2 separate regions of the Homo sapiens genome follow, and region 2 is linked to region 1. Evidence: fine-mapped expression QTL. A gene starts in region 1. The other region holds a variant in brackets. All regions are shown on one strand. Distances are from middle to middle.

Region 1 (4,383 bases):
TTTTTCTGTTTTTCTTTTTTTTTTTTTTTTAGCCAGAGTCTCACTCTGTCGCTAGGCTGGAGTGCAGTGGTGCAATCTTGGCTCACTGCAAATTCCGATTCCCTGGATCAAGCAGTTCTCCTCCCTCAGCCTCCTGAGTAGCTGGGATTACAGGCACACGCTACCACGCCCAGCTAATTTTAGTATTTTAGTAGAGATGGGGTTTCACTATGTTGGCCAGGATGGTCTCGATCTCCTGACCTCGTGATCCAACCACCTCAGCCTCCCAAAGTGCTGGGATTACAGGTGTGAGCCACCTTGCCTGGCTGTGAGGGACCAAAGGTCTTTTCTCCTGGGTCACATCCAGCTCTGGCCCCTGCCAGCCCTCCCCATTTCCATTTCCCCACTGGATACCCAGGGAGGGCTAAGTAAAGACTCGGGTTTGCTTTGAAATAAAAGCACATGCTGGCCACAGATAGAAAGGCGGGGAGACTCCTTTAGCAAATGTATGGAGATCCCAGTGTGCCGGACCCCAGGCTGAATGCTGGGTTTTCTGTTCTCACAGCCAGGAAAGCACAGATGGAGGTAAGAGGTGAGGAGAGGGACAAAATGATCACCTGTCTTCTACTCATGAGGCTTTCTGGATCAGGAGGAGTTTCAGCAGTTGTCTAAGTCTAGAAGAGAGATGGTTGTATGTATGTGTGTGCGTGTATGTGTGGCTTGGGGTGACATGGGAAGTGTGAAGGGTGTCCGAAAGAGAGAGATTGGGAAGGAGGGAAATGAGACAGGTTAGTGGGAGATGGATTCTGGGGGCAAGGTTCATGGCATCCCTGGGGGCTCCTCAGGAACTGGTTGAATAATCTGTAGCCCCTGGACACTAGGCGTCTACATTGGACCATTTGCTGTGGTTGTTAGGAGGAGGACAACATTCCTGTTGCAGGAAGTTAGCCGACAACCATCAATGAAGGTCATAAGGATGAGCAGTTCACAAAGCTCCTACACCCTTGTTTCTCATTTAATGTCTGAAAAATCCCTGTAAAGCATAAAACAGACTCACAAAAGGAGGGTCCCAGCCAGGTGCAGTGACTCACGCTTATCATTCCAGCACTTTGGGAGGCTGAAGCGGGAGGGTCCCTTGAGCCCAGGAGTTCAAGACCAGCCTGGGTAACATAGTGAGACTCCATCTCTACAAATAATTCTAGAAATTAGCCAGGCATGGTGGAGTGAGGTGGTGGTCCCAGCAACTTGGGAGGCTAAGGTGAGAGGATCATCTGAGCCAGGGAGGTGGAGGTTACAGTGAGCTGAGATCATGCCACCACTGCACTCTAGCCTGAGCAACAGAGCAAGACCCTGTTTCAAAAAATAATAATAAAGAAGTCCCTTAGCAAAGAAGTGTTGGAGCTAGGGGTTGAGTTCCAAGTCCCCCATAAGGCAAAGGCCACAGGCTTTTTGCCCTGTGTCCCAAGGTAGGGGAACCAGGCAGAGCTGGAATGTGTGCTGTTTGCTTGCCCAAAAACCTATCCAGGCTTACAGGCCAATTGGGAGAAAACATAAAACATCCTCCACAGCCTACATTGAGCCAAACAAAACTTGATTTTGAGGGATTGTGCAGGTGTGGGAAGAGGAAAGACTCTTGTTATGGGAGTCAGGATAGCGGGTTCCACCTCGACTGGGCCCTTGCTGTTTGCGTGTCATTGAATCTCTCTGAAATGCAGTTTCTTCACATATAAAATGTGGATAAAAGCGCCTACCTCCTAGGAATGATGTGAGGACTCAACAAGAGAATGCACGTGTTGTTCTGAATGTAGTACGGTGCACATAGCAAGCACTCAGTACTCCTTAGGTTTTATTATTGCCGTTATTAATACAAAGAGGTTGTGCTGCATGGTTGCTCATTCAGGCCCTGGTGGCTGTTTCCCACCTTCAGCCCTGGCTCCTGTGGCTAGAGCCCTGGTGCCCACAGCTCAACCTGGACCTGTCCACCCTTGAAGGGCTCATGATGCAGCATCAGGGAGTCCCAGATCGAGCCGCTGACACCTCCAAGTCGGCTGCAGCTGTGCATCCGCTCAGACCACAAGACTCAATGGAGGATGCTGACCTCTCTTTGTTCTCCCAACGAGTACTAGGCAAGGAGGGAAGGAAGGTGAGCGCTTAGAAAAAACGTGTTGGTTTCAACTGAAATGACATTAAGCTATCGTGGAGGTAAAGGAGAGGGGTTGAGCCGGTCAGGAATCCAGGCAACCTGACCCTATTTGCCAGTGTCCGCTTTTAATTTTGGTCGCTAAGGGCAAGCGCCCGTGACAAACATGGCGGCGGCAGCCTCAGGCGCAGTCACCTGCCGGAGCTGCGCCCGGGGGCCGCGCGGAGCCAATCGCTGGGCGGGGGCGGAGGGAGAGGCTGGGGAAGCCCTAGAAGTGCGCGCAGGCGCATTGGCTCGCACCTGGCTCCCGCCAGCCGTGGGATTAGGCTTCGCCGGCTACGATTGCGGTGAGACGCTGGCCAGCGGCCGGGGCTCGCGGGCAGGAGCGGGCTGGGCTGGGGCCGATCTGGCACAAACGACAGACCCGAGGGGGAGGGGAATGCTTTGCGCTCTGGGAGTCATGGGGGCTATCTGCGGGGGTCTTTGGGGTGATCATATTGTGGATTGGGAGAGTTGTGTGGTCCGGGCGGAAGAAGCGGGGTTCAAGGGGGCAAGGGTGGAATCCTCGCAGAAAGGCTCTCCGGGGGTCTGGAGGAAAGGGATGCAGTGGGTCAAATAGCTCCCTGGTGGTCTGGGATCGAGGGATGCACTGGTCAGGTCGGGATCCGTGCCATTAGCATAAAGGCATTTAACCCTGGTGGCACTTGGGGAGCTTTGAAAAACACCGATGCTGGGCCCGCCCGAAGAGATTCCGATTTAACTGTTCTGGGTGAGGCCTGGGCCTCGGTATTATTGCACAGCTCCTCAGGTGATTTTAACGTGCAGGCGGTGGGGAGCAGCCCTACACGTGTTTCAGCACCAGCTATTGAGTGAAGAGCTCCTGGGCTGATCCCAAACTCCTCAGTGGCTTGGGAGGGGTGGGTGGTCCTGAGGTGAAGCTGTCGCCTCTTCTGGGACCTGTGGGGGAGGGAGAGGGAGAAGGTCCCCATCTCAACAAGTTGAAAGCTCATTTCCAGCCGGAGGAGGAGGATGGGCCCCCACCCCCCAACCCTGGTGCTAGACCCTGCTGTGGGGAGACTGGGCAGGAAGACAAGACCCCGAGAGTGAAACAGGAAACACAGCAGACAATTCAGGGGTCAGCTGCCTGTTGAGAAAAGGGCACATATTATACCTTTCATGTTCATTTGTTCATTTGGTATTCCTGAGGATAGGCAGAGAATGGAATTGTTTTCTCTGCTTCACAGATGTAGGAATAGACTCAGATAGTAAGTTAAAGATAATGTTCACACCTGACCCAGGGCTCCTGACTCCAAATTATGCCTCTTCTTAGCTTTTACCTCTGCACTAATGTCTCTTGTACAGTCTGATACCTCTCACTCCAGGGGCCCAGTTCGGCATTCTTGGTTTCCGCCACTAAATTCATCAACCTCCCCCACCCACCATAGGTTGGTTCAGAAATCAGGGAGATGTTGCTGCTTCCATCCCTTTCTAGTCTTTACCTACCAGGGGCCTGGTAGGGTGAAGGGGAAGAGTTTTGACACCTGCTAGAGGGCTTCTTCCAAACAGATCTGTCACTTCCCCACCCCCAGCGCCCCACCTGTTGTCCTCAGCATAGAATCTTGCACAAGGTTTACAAAACCCTTCCTGATGTGGCCCCTTTCTCCCGCGCTGCTCTGAGCTCTCTTCCCAGATTGTTTCTGTGTCTCTTAGCACAGTGCTGTGCACCCGGCGAAAGCTTAATAAATGTTCCTCTGTTATGATCACTATTCTTCTTTGTACCTGCTGCCTTGCTTTAGTGTCTTACTCAGAGAGGCACATCAAGCCTCCCAGGCTGCCCCTTCTCTCTGACTCCCACAGTTAAGCAGAACACAGAGCTAGGAGGGGCACAGTGGGGTCTGAAGATGACAGTTTTCCTATGACTGCTGCTGCTGTTCCCTAGGGCTGAGGATGTTGTTGATATTGACCTTTTAGGGGCCAATCGACCCAGCAGGGATTGACTGAGCAAGCTGAGGGAGCCTGGTGGAGGCAAAGGGCAGGGATCAAGGGCGGGACTAACCCAGCCCTGCTTTTTTTTTTTTTTTTTTTAAGAGACGGAGTCTCACTCTGTCCTCCAGGCTGGAGTGCAGTGGCGCGATTTCGGCTCACTGCAAGCTCCTCCTCCCGGGTTCACGCTATTCTGCCTCAGCCTCCCGAGTAAGCTGGTACTACAGGCGTGCCCGCCACCACGCCTGGCTAATTTTTGTATTTTTAGTAGAGAGGAGGTT
Region 2 (4,383 bases), 32 kb after region 1:
AAATACAAAAGGAAAAATACATTATATGGTACCATTTTTATTTAAGAAAAGAAAGCGGCCGGGCGCAGTGGCTCACACTTGTAATCCCAACACTTTGGGAGGCAGAGGCAGGCGGATCACTTGAGGTCAGGAGTTTGAGACCAGCCTAGCCACCATGGTGAAAGCCTGTCTCTAGTAAAAATGCAACAATTAGCTGGGCATGTTGGCAGGCACCTGTAGTTCCAGCTACTTGGGAGGCTGAGGTGGGAGAATCACTTGAATCTGGGAGGCAGAGGTTGCAGTGAGCCAAGATTGTGCCACTGCACTCCAGCCTGGGTGACAGACTCTGTCTCACAGGAAAAAAAAAACAAAACTAATATTTGTATATAATATATACATTTATTTGAACCTAGAAAAAGGTAAATGCACACCAAAAGAAGGGAAGTGGAAATAGGATGGTGAGGAGGATTCTCACTGTATACACAACCGTATGTGTGATTTTTCTGTAGTCTCTGACTTTTCTACATTGAACATGTTTTGCTTTGGGAATTAAAAATACTAGTAATAAAGGGAAGAAAAAGACAGAAAACCTGGGGAAAGAAGAAAGTACCTAGAAGCATCAAAGCAGCCAAGTTCAGGAACATAAGGTAGGAAAAGCACATGACTCCTTGTTACGCCACCCTGGGGTGCTTTTAACCTACTTTCCCAGCTCAGGCCTGAACTCTCCCAGCTTCCAGGGCCTCTGTGACAGACACCGCCATGAGCACTGTCATGCTTGAAATGGACTCCCATGGAACACGTGCTGTCTGGTTCTTATTGCAAGGGCAGAGCACGATGCTTTGGGAGATTTTTGTTGTTGTTTTCTTTTTAACTATGCTTTCCTTTTACTCCTTGGTCTCCTGATGGTAAAGAGAAGCAAAGACTAAAGCCTACTCTGAGAATAGAAGAGAACCACAGTCCTGCTGCTCCAACACTTGGTATGTCGAGTGAGGTGTCCAGAAAAGAATCTGAGTTCTCCCAGCATCTCAGGTACCACCCAGGGCCCAATCAATGTAAACAGTGACTCTGGACACAGAGACCAACCCTGTGCAGGACAGATGTCAAGGCTTAGTATTGCTTGTAGATACACCCTGTCCTCTTCCTTTTTTTTGAGATGGAGTCTCGCTCTGTCGCCCAGGCTGGAGTGCAGTGGTGCAATCTGGGCTCACTGCAAGCTCTGCCTCCCAGGTTCATGCCATTCTCCTGCCTCAGCCTCCTGAGTAGCTGGGACTACAGGTGCCCACCAGCATGCCTGGCTAATTTTTTTTTTTTTTTTTTAGTAGAGACAGGGTTTCACCGTGTTAGCCAGGATGATCTCGATCTCCTGACCTCGTGATCCGCCCGCCTTGGCCTCCCAAAGTGCTGGGATTATAGGCGTGAGCCCACCGTGCCCGGCCTTTTTTTTTTTTTTTTTTTGAGACAGAATCTCGGTCTGTCACCCAGGCTGGAGTGTGGTGGCACAATCTCAGCTCACTGCAACCTCCACCTCCTGGGTTCAAGCGATTCTCCTGCCTCAGCCTCCTGAATAGCTGGGATTACAGGCGCGCACCACCATGCCTGGCTAATTTTTGTATTTTTAGTGGAGATGAGGGTTCACCGTGTTGGTCAGGCTGGTCTCGAACTCCTGACCTTGTGATCCACCTGCCTCGGCCTCCCAAAGTGCTGGGATTACAGGCATGAACCACCGCGCCTGGCCTCTTCTTCCTTCTTAACTCTTCTACCACCACACCTGATACCCTCACCTTTCTAACCCAACATGGTTTGCAGCTGCACCCGTAGCTGGGGCAAGCCTTTTCCTGCTGCCTGTTGACCACTCTCCTGGGGTGGAGTGTGGTATTTACTGACCTCATTCTACAAGCACTGAACACACCT[G/T]GAGACTCTAAGTAGCCAAGGTTATCTGCACCAAAGGCTTCCCAGCAACATGCCTGCTTCCCTCCTTGACTCTCTTATTCCTGCTCTTCTGCAGGAAGAGGGGGAGTGAGACTGGCCATCTGGTGCTTGCCTTTGGCAAGACAGAGGTTGGTGGAGGAAGCAAGTGGTTGAAGGAAGCCAGGTGTGGTGGCTCACGCCTGTAATCCCAGCACTGTGGGAGGCCGAAGCGGGGCAGATCACATGAGGCCAGGGAGTTCAAGGCCAGCCTGGCCAACATGGCAAAACACTGTCTTTACTACAAATACAAAAATTAGCCAGGTGTGCTACACGTCTGTAATCCCAGCTACTCAGGGAGGCTGAGGCAGGAGAATCACTTGAACCCAGGAGGTGGAGGTTGCAGTGAGCCAAGATCGCACCACTGCACTCTAGCCAGGGAGACAGAGTGAGACTCCACCTCAAAAAAAAAAAAAAAAAAAAAAAGAAGTGGTTGAAGGGCAGAGAAAGTGGTATGAGAGGAGAGCAGGGCAGCCAGTTCTCTAAGGGAGCAGGAATCTTTGCCAACAGAAGAGAGTGAAAACAGAAGACAATGTGCAAACTCATTGGACTGGGCAGTACAACAAGGAGCCTGGAAAAGGTGCAGCTGTCAAGTGAGCTGAAAGACTGGGAAGGAGGGGCAATTTGCCTACAAACCCAAGGGCTCTGAGAGCAAGGCACGGACAGGCAAGGGGGGAACTCCTAGAACTTGTTTGCTCAGGCTTCCAATGATTGCTCACTGCCTTCATCTGGGTGTGGTGATGCCAACAGACTAATTGGGTCTCCCGGCAGAGGTTAAAAACAAGAGAGGATGAGATCTGTCCTTCAGACCCTGGATATTTTTAAGAGATGATTTTCCTGGGTATTTTATTTTTAGTTTACTAGCAAAAGGACTAGAGTCTGGGTAAACAGGCAGATTATGAAGTCAGATTTGTTTTTTCTTCTCTGTCCTTCCTAGCAAAGAGTATAAAAAGCCCAGTTCAAATATCATCACCTTCCTCCTGAAGAAACATCCCCAGTTGGAATGAATGATCATCTTCCTATTATCTCACAGCAAATTTCCATTACCTGTACCACGAGGTGGCATGCACTTCATTCTGCTTTTTATTACAATGTAAGGTTTCCACTTTCGTCTCTTTTCAGTTGAAGTTCCTTAAGGCTAAAATACATTTTGGCAGTATCTGGCATTTGCTGGGTACTCAACAGATGCTGGCTGAGTAAAATTAAAATCAAGTGCAAATGACTGGCAGATAGAACCTAAAGTATGGAACCTGAATGACCAGCTGAAATGACAGAAGCCCCAGGCAGAGGCGGTTCAGCAAAGGGGAAAGCAGCACTGGGAGTGATGCACAAGGTGGAACCAGACCCAGCGTGTCCTTGCAGCCCCCAAGCAGGCCTGCCATGCCAGTCATAGGGTGAAGAATCAGTGGAGAATGAGGAGCAGCTGAGCTGCCTCAATTCTGCTCAAGCCACACAAATTCTGCTCAAGAGCATACAAAAGGGTTATGTCCATTTCTTTAACAGTATTTACAACTAGGAACTGTGTACCTGGCAAATAAGCTGCCACTGTCTTTGTTATTCACTCTGGCAAGGCCAAATGAAAAAATGCCTGGTAGAGGCTTCTTGAGTAGTCTTGGCTGGGTGTGGTAACTCATGCCTATAATCCAAGCACTTAGGAAGGCCGAGGCACGCAAATCACTTTGAGGCCAGGAGTTTGAGACCAGCCTGGCCAAAATGGAGAAACCCCATCACTACAAAAAATACCAAAAAGTTAGCCAGGCATGGTGATGTGTGCCTGTACTCCTAGCTACTTGGGAGGCTGAGCTAGGAAGACTGCCTGAGCCCGGGAGGTCGAGACCAGCCTGCACATGGCGAAACCCCGTCTCTACAAAAATACAAAAATTAGCTGGGCATGGTGGTTGTGTGCCTGTGGTCCCAGCTACTCAGGAGGCTGAGGTTGGAGGATCACTTGAGTCTGGGAGGTCAAGGCTGCAGCAAGCTGTAATTGCACTGCTGCACTCCAGGCTGGATGACAGAGTAAGATAAGACCCTGTCTCAAAACCAACCAACCAACCAACCAAACAAACAAAAAGTATGGCTGGGTGCGGTGGCCCACGCCTGTCACCCCATCACTTTGGAAGGCAGATGAGGGAGGATTGCTTGAGGCCAAGAGTTCGAGAGACCAGCCTGGGCAACATGGCAAAACGCTGTCTCTACAAAATATTAATTTTAATTTTAATTTTAATTTTTTTGAGATGGAGTCTGGCTCTGTCACCCACCTAGAGTGCGGTGGCACAATCTCGGCTCACTGTAACCTCCGCCTCCTGGATTTAAGCGATAGTCCTGTCTCAGACTCCTGAGTAGTTGTTGTTACAGGTGTGCGCCACCACGCCCGGCTAATTTTTGTATTTTTAGTGTAGAGGGGGTTTCACCATGTTGGCCAGGCTGGTCTCGAACTCC

The links. PIP is the estimated chance that this variant, and not a neighbour inherited with it, causes the effect. A credible set is the group of variants that fine-mapping cannot tell apart.
Region 2: its variant is the best candidate, but not a certain one, in a credible set for the expression of SLC68A1 in whole blood (TOPMed, PIP 0.56).

The regions. Positions count from the first base shown.
Region 1 is chr10:102,458,985-102,463,367 of GRCh38, forward strand. It overlaps SLC68A1 (solute carrier family 68 member 1), which reads left to right and starts at 2,411. Exons shown (of 10, transcript NM_024789.4): 1 at 2,411-2,466. LOC124902493 (a long non-coding RNA gene) reads right to left here. Exons shown (of 3, transcript XR_007062270.1): 3 at 1,809-3,076. RefSeq lists enhancers at 1,930-1,999, 2,127-2,810, 2,811-3,493 and a silencer at 2,270-2,489.
Region 2 is chr10:102,490,655-102,495,037 of GRCh38, forward strand. The region is part of intron 1 of ACTR1A (actin related protein 1A); the gene reads right to left. Among named protein-coding and RNA genes, the nearest start is that of ACTR1A, 9.9 kb to the right of the region's middle. The variant G/T (reference allele first, on the strand shown) is at 1,891.